Linked DNA regions of Homo sapiens: region 1 is linked to region 2. A link means that fine-mapping ties the variant in region 2 to the expression of a gene that starts in the linked region. Tissue or cell type: whole blood. Region 2 holds a variant in brackets; the other region holds the start of a gene. All regions are shown on one strand. Distances are between the middles of the regions.

The links. PIP is the estimated chance that this variant, and not a neighbour inherited with it, causes the effect.
Region 1: ZNF776 starts here. The variant in region 2 is fine-mapped to the expression of ZNF776 in whole blood (INTERVAL, PIP above 0.99).

What each region holds. Positions count from the first base shown.
Region 1 is chr19:57,743,810-57,749,574 of GRCh38, reverse strand. ZNF776 (zinc finger protein 776) reads right to left here and starts at 2,760. Exons shown (of 3, transcript NM_173632.4): 1 at 2,484-2,760. The coding sequence starts at 2,516. RefSeq lists an enhancer at 2,699-2,748.
Region 2 is chr19:57,778,257-57,784,021 of GRCh38, reverse strand. ZNF586 (zinc finger protein 586) reads right to left here. Exons shown (of 3, transcript NM_017652.4): 3 at 3,406-5,271. The coding sequence ends at 4,226. Among named protein-coding and RNA genes, the nearest start is that of ZNF586, 11 kb to the right of the region's middle. The variant G/TTG (reference allele first, on the strand shown) is at 2,310.

The DNA.
Region 1 (5,765 bases), 34 kb after region 2:
GTGACACATCATATTGGGCCTCCATTTTTGGCTTTATACCACAATATGGCTGACAGCATCCAATATGCTTCACATATTCAAACAGGATCCAATAATAACACAAAATGACCATGGTTCCCATTAGCAGTGGTAGTCCCTAATAATTCTATGAATGCCTCCTTGCATTACTCCACATCCATGCAAAACCACATGTAACTTCAGATATCCATGGTCTTATTCCACTTCTGTGCTACAATGGCTTACCCTTCAGCAACACGGACCAACTTCCATTCACCTAATACCATTGCCATTTAAAGAGCAGTCCTGGATGGGCATGGTGGTTCACACCTGTAATCCTAGCACTTTGGGAGGCTGAGGCAGGTGGATCATGAGGTCAGGAGTTCGAGACCAGCCTGGCCAATATGGTGAAATCACATCTCTACTAAAAATACAAAAAAAAATTAGTGGGGCGTGGTGGCACGCAACTGTATTCTCAGCTACCGGGAGGCTGAGGCAGGAGAATCACTTGAACCTGGGAGGTGGAGGTTGTAATGAGCCAAGATTGCGCCACTATACACCAGTACACCAGCCTGGGCGACAGAGTGAGACACCGTCTCAAAAAAAAAAAAAGTCCTGTTTTTAATCCATTTAAGGCCCAAGACCTACTGTCACAGATGACCATATTTCTCCCTGAGCATATTCAGCACGTGTAATGAAACCCCCCACACACTACCAAAGTCATCTCAAATCTTGATTGCACAGAGTGGTGAATAAGTACCACTCTGGCCTAAGTGTCATCTTCCCTCAATTTGACTACACTTCTGCATATATCTATTTCATGTCTATTCTCTCCTTGAAAGTCTATGTCCCCTGTCAAATTATGCTGACAGGTATACCCTACCATCATGGTCACTTACCTACCTCTCCAGTGTTTAGGAAGCCCAGTAACATTACCCAGGGACCCAAGCAACAGATGCAGTCCTCATCATTCAACCACTGCTTTCTGGTCCCCTAAAAGATTTACCACCAGAATCTGAAGTGTGTTCTCCTTAATGTGACCCATGGCTCACTCACCATAGCATACACATTAGCTACCATATATTAGATGTCTCCAGTGTCAATCCCTTTCCAGATACCCCAACCTGCATGTCCATAGCCATTTGATGCCTACACTTATTCGTCTCTGACTCTTCATATGGCCATAACAGTCATCCTGATATTTGCATAATATTCTAATTATGTTTATTACCAACATGCTCATCTCAGCTGATGCAGCTTCCATAGCTACAGCTACTAAGACCAAAAACCTCGGGATCCTGATTGCTCTCTTCATGCCCTTACTTTGTGTATTAGGAAACCTAGATGCTGTAACAAAATATCAACTTTGAATCCAGCCACATCTCCTTAGCCATGAATCTTAGTCTGTTAACCCTCACTTGGATTACGGCAAAAGCCTCAACTCTCATCTTATTTCCTCCTCTCTCAACCCCACAGTCTGTTCTCCACTGTACAGCCAGAGGAGACTACAGCCAGATGAAACTGTGGCAACATCACCTCCTCCCTCTGGTCAGTTTCACCTCTAAGCATTTCACATCCTGGTACTAACTCCTGGGTTAACCTTCCAAGTATGTTTATACTGGTTGACAGAAATGGGAATACCTCCATATATCCTGTGTCACAGACTTTGGATCCTGGGTTTAAGGTTCCTCCAGGGTTCCCATATCAAAAAACTTAAAAAAAAAAAAAAAAAGGTACCTAAGAATCCCAGGACATCCCAATCTAAAGAGCATGTGGATAGGAGTTAGGGCCAGTGAGGGAATAACACCCTCCGCTTCCCTGCGGAGGTTCTGCAAGTGCTTCTGCAGCCAGGAGTTCCTGAGAGGAGAGGCACAAGCTACAAGAATGTATCCCTGATGAGATTTGATAAGCTCAGGCCTCCCTGAACTCTTTCTTGGCCCTGTAACTAGGTAAACGCGAGTTGGTTGTCTGAACTGAGCGCCTCAGTACAAAATGTCATCTCTTAGCACCTATCTGATCTGTAGAGGTTGAACAAGAATTCAACCTCCCAGGGCCCAAAAGTCATCCCCTGTGTTCTTTTTCGACTGGACTTTGGGAAACCTTTAAAGCCTGGACATTGATCTTTTCCTTCCTTTGTTGGAAGCTGTCCATGGCTTCCAGCGTTCTCAGGGTGAATACACGGTCCTCAGCCTGCTCTTCCAGGAGGAGCTCTGCCTCACACTTTGCTCCCGACAGGTGCCTGTGGACCCTAGGTTACGATCCTCTCGGCTCAGTTCATCTCCAGGCCTTTGCCTGCACCGCTCCCTGTGCCTGTAGCTCTCCTGAGCGCATCCCGCGGGTGTCAAAAACGGGGGCCCATAGAGAGCGCCTCAGTGTCCCGACGCCGGGTTCAGGGTGTAAAACCTTGAGCAGGCGCCGCTTCCTCTCTGCTTTTGGACTTAGGTAAAGATGAGGTGACCTGAGGGCACGGAAGACGCCACAATTACCTGAGCCGGGGGCCTCAGCGCGGCCGCCGCCATCCGACTGGGTGGGGAAAGCGGGGTCGAAAGGAGGGGGCGAGCAGTGCAGGTACCCGGGCACGGTGGTCCCGATCCCGGCCTTGGTGCGGGTCACGCCTAGCGCCTTTAAGGAGCTGCAGAGCAGCCTCTGTGCAGTCGGGACAACGTCTCGTCTCCACCTTCTGGGTTCAGTCACTTCTACACGACCCAACACTCCGCGGTCTCTCACTGGAAAATACACCCAACACCAATCAAAATGGCCACTAGTAGAGGACGCCGGAAGTCCCACCTTTATACTGTTTCCGCGGAAACGCCTTTATTTTGAGCCCTCATTGGCTCTGACGCGCTGTCATTCGACGCAGAGATTTCTGGGTTATGTAGTTTCCTCAGGTTCCAAGACAGTTCCAAGGCGGTAAAGAAGGCCTTCTCAGAGGCGCTTGATTGCACAGAGTGGTGAATAAACACTACTCTGGCCTAAGTGTCATCTTCCCTCAATTTGACTATACTTCTGCATGTATCTATTTCATGTCTATTTTCTCCTTGAAAGTCTATATCCCCTGTCAAACTATGCTGTCAGGTATACCCTACCATCACGTTCACTTACTTGCAGGAAAGGCCCAGCTCCATCTCAGCGGCCTGTCCTTAAAGTGCATGTCCTTCTAGGGTAGAGGATAGTCTCACCTAGCCTTAGAACCCGTATTGAGATTTTTGGAGATTAGTGTCTGTAACTGATCACTCAAGTATTTGAAAAAATATTATTTTAGATTTTGGGGAACTCGAGCTCTCCGATGCTAAACTTATTATTTAGGATGCCCCCAAAGACTAAAAATCCAAATTATCATAACGTTTTGAACAGTCTTTCAGTCGCAAAATCCCGGTACTGGCAGCAGAGGCTGATAAACATTATTGTGTTATAAATTCACATGAATGCACTCTGAGGCATTAGAGTCAGTTTCTCAGTCTGTCAGGGACAAGAGAGAACTAATCCAGATAGGACAAGACAAGGAAGATAGAGGAGAAATGTTGTGTTCCCTAAAGCAGGAATACATGCTGAATCTCTGTCTGTGATTCCCACAGAAGACAACTCTCCTGCCTATAAAATCAATCATAGTGTCCAGTACATTGAGCAACACTTTTATCCACTTAGTATCCCTCGCTTGAGATTCCAACTTATATTCAATTAATTCTGGATTAATTTATCTAAGATTTATCAATCTTACAGGAAGACCAATGAAAGAAATGCTATTTTGGTAGTGATAAATGGCTGCAGTTTTCAAAGGTGGGGCACGTATGCAGAAGATGCTCTCCACCTGTTGATATTGGTTGTGTCTTAAATCCAGGAGTTCATGTTATTGCTGGGAAGTGGCTATTTTTTTTTTTTTGTATTAGATAAAACAGACTTTATTTATTTCTTTTCTTTTTTTTTTTTTGTGACTATTCTTTATTTCTGTTTCCATGGCAAGGAGTGTTTTGCCTAATAAATTAATGTTATGGATGGGATTACAGGCATGAGCCACCATACCTGGCTAATTTTGTATTTTTAGTAGAGACGGGGTTTCTCCATGTTGGTCAGGCTGGTCTCGAACTCTCAACCTCAGGTGATCCACCTGTCTCGGCCTCCCAAAGTGCTGGGATTAAAGGCATGAGCCACTGTACCCAGCCGCTCAGTTCTTAAAAAACCTATGTCTTCTATGTTCAGGGAGAAGAGGCATTTAGAGCAAGAGCTTACTCATTCTCCATTTCTGCTCAGAAATAAAACTTGCTTGCCTTTTTTTTTTTTTTTCCCAAATTGGGTGTTCTTTTTTTTGTGACCAATACAAAGTAGGGAAAGAACTCAGTTTATTGGTAGTACAACTTAAAAAAAAAAAAGCATGTTTAACATTCCAACTTTCATAGTCCTGTCAACTTTTACTTTATGTTGTAGTCCCAGGACTCTTCTCTCCAGACCATTTTACCCTTTCTTGTGCAGATGTCTTCAGGTTTCCACCCAGGGTTCAGGCCAGGAGACTTTGGCCTTTTTTCCAAGTGCTACCTTGATTAACCAGTCTAACCATCACCCTAGGCATTCCAGGTGGGGTTTCTCATTATATCTTTACCTTCTGGCTTTTAAAATTTATCCAAACTTCAGGAACTACAGCAACTTAGCTTAAGGCCCTTTAATGTTGGGGGATCAACAGGAACTTCCTTTGGTCCACCCAACCTTCAATAGTGTTATATTCAGAATTTTGTTTTAATCCGATCAGTTTTTATTTTATTCATCTAATTTCCATCTAATAGCCATCTAAAGATTTCCACCATGCTGGGATGAGTATCATGATTTCCCCCTTTTCTTTTTCCTCTTAGTTTCATTCCTATCCATGTTTTCTTTATTTGTCTTATTTCTTTATAACTATTTAAAAATTTCTACCTTCCTGGAAGGAGCTGTTTGACTCTCCCCTGTACCTTTCATCATTGTCTATCTTATTAATTAATCTAATGGTTTTATTAGCATCTGAAAGGCCCATAATAGGAAGCAAATTTGGTAAGACTGACTATAGCTCAATTTTGCAGCAGTAAGTTTACATAAGGTGCCCAAGAAAATGGGGTTCCCCAAACCAAGACATTTACCATGACCTGGGTAATAAACATATTCAGTAGGTAAATATTCCTATCATCATAATGCCAGTTCCACATGGCTTGCATGGGAAGCATATTAAGCTGGTTCATCTGGGGAGCCCCACTTGGCATTTATAGGGGGAGTCAGACAGTCCCGCTTTTCCGAGTAGACAGACTTCAGAGTAGCTTTTATACACCCACCCAGGCTGGCTGTTCCTTCAGGAATAAACTCTTGTGTGTGTGGATGATACATACCTATCTGCAATTGTTGAAGAGTGACCTGTAGGTACTACATCAACCCAAACATGTTCTTCCACTCTGCATTATTTAAAACCAAAGATGTTTCCCCTAAGTTAGTTATTCTCACTATCCATGTTAGTAAAGGTTCCTGAGGAAGCTGACGATACTGGTCTATAAAATGAAACAATTCCTCCACACTATTGATATAGAACCAGGCCTGTTCTGTCCATCTCACAGTATGCCAATCACTGAGATGATGAGTCTTGCAGCAGAGAAAGCATGTATTTACAAGGCTGCCAAGTGCAGAGGTGGGAGAACAGTTCTCAAATCTGCCTCTTTGATGATGGGATTTAGAGATATTTATGGGATAAAGAAGCCTGTCGGCCGGGCGCGGTGGCTCATGCCTGTAATCCCAGCACTTTGGGAGGCCAAGCC
Region 2 (5,765 bases):
GGAGAATCACCTGAACCTGGGAGGCAGAGGTTGCAGTGAGCTGAGATTGTGCCACTGCACTTCAGCCTGGGCCACAGTGAGACTCCGTCTCAAAAAAAAAAAAAAGAAAAAAAAAAAAGAAAGAATTAATTAACCAGGTAGACCAAGTAGAGGTTAGTAAAGTTACTTGTTTTAGAGTAAGTAATTCAAGGAGAAAATATACTACAACAAATTTATTTATTTATTTATTTTTTTGAGACGGAGTTTCACTCTATCACCCAGGCTGGAGTGCAGTGGAGCCATCTTGGCTCACTGCAACCTCCACCTCCCAGGTTCAAGCAATTCTCCTGCCTCAGCCTCCCGAGTAGCTGGGACTGCAGGTGCATGCCACCACACCCGGCTAATTTTTTATTTTTAGTAGAGACGGTTCGCCATGTTGGCCAGGCTGGTCTCAAACTCCTGACTTCAGATGATCTGTCTGCCTCAGCCTCCCAAAGTGCTGGGATTACAGGTGTGAACCACCATGCCCGGCCAACAACAACAAATTTACATAAATTATGTAAAAATTTATCAGGGAATATATTGATTTATATATCACATTAAAATTGAACAAAACTAAGAAATTACTAGCATAATCAAAATACCAAAAAGTTAGAATGATAAAGCACACTAATATATTGAGAATAGGAAGGAAATCTAAATATTTTGTACAGAAATTTTCTTTTTCTTTTTTTGAGACGGAATTTTGCTCTTGTTGCCCAGGCTGGAGTGCAACAGCGTGATCTCGGCTCACCGCAAACTCCACCTCCCAGGTTCAAGCGATTCTCCTGCCTCAGCCTTCCCAAGTAGCTGGGATTATAGGCATGCGCCACCAAGCCCAGCTAATTTTGTATTTTTAGTACAGATGGGGTTTCTCCATGTGGGTCAGGCTGTTCTCGAACTCCTGACCTCAGGTGATCCACCCACCTTGGCCTCCCAAAGTGCTGGGATTACAGGCGTGAGCCACCAAGCCTGGCCTTATACAGAAATTTTCACATAAATTTTAGTCATATATAAGCAGAACAGGCCGGGCACGGTGGCTCACGCCAGTAATCCCAGCACTTTGGGAGGCTGGGGCGGGTGGATCACCTGAGGTCAGAAGTTCAAGACCAGCCTGGTCAACATGGTGAAACCTCGTCTCTACTAAATATACAAAAAATTAGCTGGGTGTGGTGGTGGACAACTGTAATCCCAGCTACTCGGGAGGCCGAGGCAGGAGAATCGCTTGAACCCAGGAGGCGGAGGTTGCAGGGAGCCAAGATCGTGCCACTGCGCTCCAGCCTGGGCAACAAGAGCAAAACTTTGTCTCAAAAAAAAAAAAAAAAAAAAAAAAAAGAAATGTTGTATTAATTATACAGACAAGAGCCTACAGATCCTAAAAGTGCTCTCATTACTAAAAACTTTGTCTTTATAAACTACAGATTTTCTCTGACTACAAAGGTTTTGTGGGAATATAATTAGGGTGTTATCAAGAAAATTTTGGTTGGGCGTGGTGGCGCACGCTTGTACTCCCAGCACTTTAGGAGGCTGAGGCAGGCGGATCATCTGACGTCAGGAGTTTGAGACCAGCCTGGCCAACATAGCAAAACCCCGTCTCTACTAAAGATACAAAAATTATCCGGGCATGGTGGTGGGCACCTGTAATCCCAGCTACTCTAGAGGCTGAGACAGGAGAATGACTTGAACCTGGGAGGTGGAGGTTGCAGTGAGCTGAGATCACGCCATTGCACCCCAGCCTGGGCAACAAGAGTGAAACTCTGTCTCAAAGAATAAAAAATAAAAGAGAAAATTTCACTCTCCACGGAAGTGACAGGAAGATATGTATCAGCGAGTGTGAGTGGTCATAACATGGTTAATCTGAATAAGCCATTTTATGACTTCTAGATGACATCCCACACACCTGTATTGATTCAGAATCACTGGACATCTTTCCAGCAAGGGAATAAAATACTAGTAACTGAAAATAAAATGTACCTATAAAACATGATGTCATTAAGTAACATTTAGGGATTGACATGTTTTACATCCTTAACTATCTTGCTATTTGTAATTTACAATTTTTATTCATGTAACTTAAGTATTTTTCCATTCACTAAATGGGACAGGAAGTTTTAACTCTTGCATTCAACACGTTAATGCAATAGCCCTGCAGCTCGCATTTGTAAATCATGTTCCCAAAAGGATAAAAATGCATATACAAAAAATGTTATAAGGACACTAAACATCTACTCAAAAAAGTCTTCTTGTTCTTCACTTTATGTGAGTAAAGCTTTTTTTTTTTTTTTTTTTTT[G/TTG]AGACAGAGTCTTGCTCTGTCGCCCAGGCTGGAGTGCAGTGGTGCGATAATTTCTCATCATCCACCCTCCATCACTTCTAAATTGTCTAAGATATGACAATTTCTTCTAAGATTTTGACACTTATCTGGGAATAGTAATTGTTTATTAAATCAATATTTGCCATGGTGGTTGCAATGCTGACATTCCTGCAGGTGTGGAATAAGACCATCTGATTCCTGAGAAATTATCTTGTATTCCATGATCCAACCTCCTTGCTAGGAAGTGATTATCATTTCACCTGTAGGTGCAGTGATAGTGTCTGCATGAAGACTGGGGATTATCTCTGAAAAACAGCTGAGGACTAAGCTAATTACAAAGTTATTAATGTGGATTCAGAGAGTTATCCATTGACAATGGCATAAGTAGCTAGTAAAGTTTCTGTGATGGCCAAGAACACATTAAGTCTCAGTGGATAGTAAGTAGAGGACAGTAAGCTCTAAGTTCTCAGATAATTAAGTGAAACTCATGGCTATCCTGAAAACTTGGCTAACATGAAATTCTTATTTCAATGAAGTGCGTATCCTTTCCATTTATGGGAACTCTGAGGAAGAACAAAAACTTGGAGAGAAAGAAATAGTATGGCAGGAGTTGAAAGATATGGAATAATAGAAGGGAAGCCATAGCGTATGTGTAGAAAAAAATAAACTTTTCCTCTATTGTCTGTCACACAACACAACAACAATCAATATGGAATAATTCTGTGACCAGATGTGCAGGGTGTTTTCCACACACACCAAGCAATCCTCCCGTGGACACAAGCTGGGGGTCCTCCAGTTCAACTCAGTCATTATCTACCTGCAGATAGCATCACATCCCCCAGTTTGAGGACTCAGTCACCAAGACTGAGGCTCCCATTTCTGATGACAATCAAAGCCCCAGAGCCTCTGCTTTTGACTGATGAGCTATAAACCACAAATCCCGTGGACCCCACAACTGGATTTGACTAATTTGATAGAATGGCACATAAAACTCAGGGAAAATAACTTACTGGTTAATTATAAATAGTACAAAAGATGCAGATAAAGAGATGCATAGGGTAAAGTATGAGAAAAGCACTTGGAGCTTCCATGCCCTCCTGCAAAGACTGAAGGTGTCTTAAGCAACAAGGCCTTTATTATAACACAAATCAGGGCAATAGGTGGCAGGCTGTCTGAGATTCATGACTGGCAGGCTGGAAAATTCCATCTTAAGAACTCTGTGAGATCCAAAAGATCCCTGAAAAAGGTAGTCCATTTTTTCAAGTTATCAGAAGAGTCCTCTGTGCCAAAAATGAGTCAGGTTCATGGCCTAACTCATTGGAGAGAAAGAAATGAGAATAGAATGAGTGCTGAGGATACTAAAAAATCCCTCTGTTGAATGAAACAAAATCAAAGTTACTTCTGGATCATGATGAGTTAGGCGAATGATGTACTGTGGGCACCTGCCAAGTGGTAAAGGTGAAATGCTTTTTAGAAGAGAACTGTAAGTCACAGAAGTCTAGCAAGAGACCTGGGCAGGTCGAAAAATACTATGCAGTTCCCACATACCTGGAATGTATGCAGCTATTTGATGTATGACATTCAATTTAGGCAGATGGCATCCTCATAAGGGGTTTCCTCCAGTGTTATATTGAAGAAAAAATAATATTACCTCCACATCTGTGGTATTTTCCTCATGTAAATATTGTGGTAACCAATGAGAGAGGGCTGAAGGCTTTCTCACATTCATTGCACTCAAAAGGCACTTCTTCAGTGGGAGCACTCTTTTATGTAAAGAAGCTAGCATTCTAGCTAAAGAATATTCCCCATTTGTCACACTCATAACACCTTGATCTGGTGTGAACTCTCTGGCCTTGAAGGAGCAAAAAGCCTGGGCAAGAGAATTTCCAAAATTTGCTTCACTTATAAGGCCTCATTCCAGTATGAACTCTCTGATGGCGACGGAACGAAGAACTGTGGCGAAATGATTTTCCACAATCAATGCATTCATATGGCCTTTCTCCAGTGTGAACTCTCAAGTGTTTAATAAGGCTGGAGTTTTCAGCAAAGGATTTCCCACAGTCACTGCACTCATAAGGCCTTTCTCCAGTGTGAACTCTCAGATGTATAATAAGGCTAGATTTTCGGCTAAAGGATTTCCCACACTGCCCGCACTCATGCCTTTCTCCAGTATGAACTCGCTGATGGTGAATGAGGTTGGACCTTAAGCTAAAGGATTTCCCACATTCACTACATTCATAAGGCCTTTCTCTAGTGTGAACTCTCTGATGCTGCAAGAGTGAAGAGCTTCGGCGAAATGATTTTCCACACTCAACGCATTCATAAGGCCTTTCTCCTGTGTGAACTCTCAAGTGTTTAATAAGACTGGAGTTTTCAGCAAAGGATCTCCCACATTCACTGCACTCATAAGGCCTCTCTCCAGTGTGAATCCTCCTGTGTTTAATGAGACTAGATGTATAAGCAAAGGACTTCCCACATTCATTGCATTCATAACGCTTTGCTCCAGAGTGAACTTTCCTGTGGTTAATGAGACTGGACTTTTCAGCAAAGGCTTTCCCACATTCAATACACTCATAAGGCCTTTCTCTAGTGTGAAGTGTCTGACGCTGCAAGAGTGAAGAGCTTTGGTGAAATGATTTTCCACACTCACTGCACTCATAGGTCTTTTGCCCAGTATGAAATCTCTCATGAATATGGAGTGTAGGCTTTTGGTGAAATAATTTCCCATATTTGCTGCACTCATAAGGCCTTTCTCCAGTGCGAACATTCCTGTGTTTGTGATCTCTTCTGGGTTCAGTGAGGCAGGACTTGTTCTTAAATAATTTCCTATATTCCCCACACTCATAAGGCCTTTCTCCACTATGACCTCCCTGGTCTTTGTATATATGTATACACGTGCTCTGCTTAGAAGGTGCTGCCTCATCTTCCCCTCCATGCCAACAACCTAAAAGCAAAGAAATGCTGGTGAGGTACATGTTGACTTTGTTGAGTATGCAGCCTACCCACAAGAGTATCTGACAAACCAAAAAACTAGTCTATGGAATTATTTGCACAAACAGGGAGTTGGGTTCAGGTTGAGGTTGGGGCTGCTTAGCATTATCACAGATATAGAAGGCCTCATATTGTCAAGGGCATGACTAAATGAGTCAACAGACAGAATAAAGGCAGGGTCTATAACTCCTTCATTTGCAAACAACTTGCCTGTGGAACCTTATTTGCTGATGACGTGTGAGTACTATATAAATATGTCCAGGCCCCCCCCAACATGACTAGAGCACAACATCCTTTGGTCAGGGACTGTTAAGAATAGGTATATACGTGGCCGAGAACCGTGGCTCATGCCTCTAATCCCAGCACTTTGCGAGGCCGAGGTGGGTGGATCACAAGGTCAGGGGTTTGAGACCAGCCTGGTCAACAACCAACATGGCAAAACCCCAT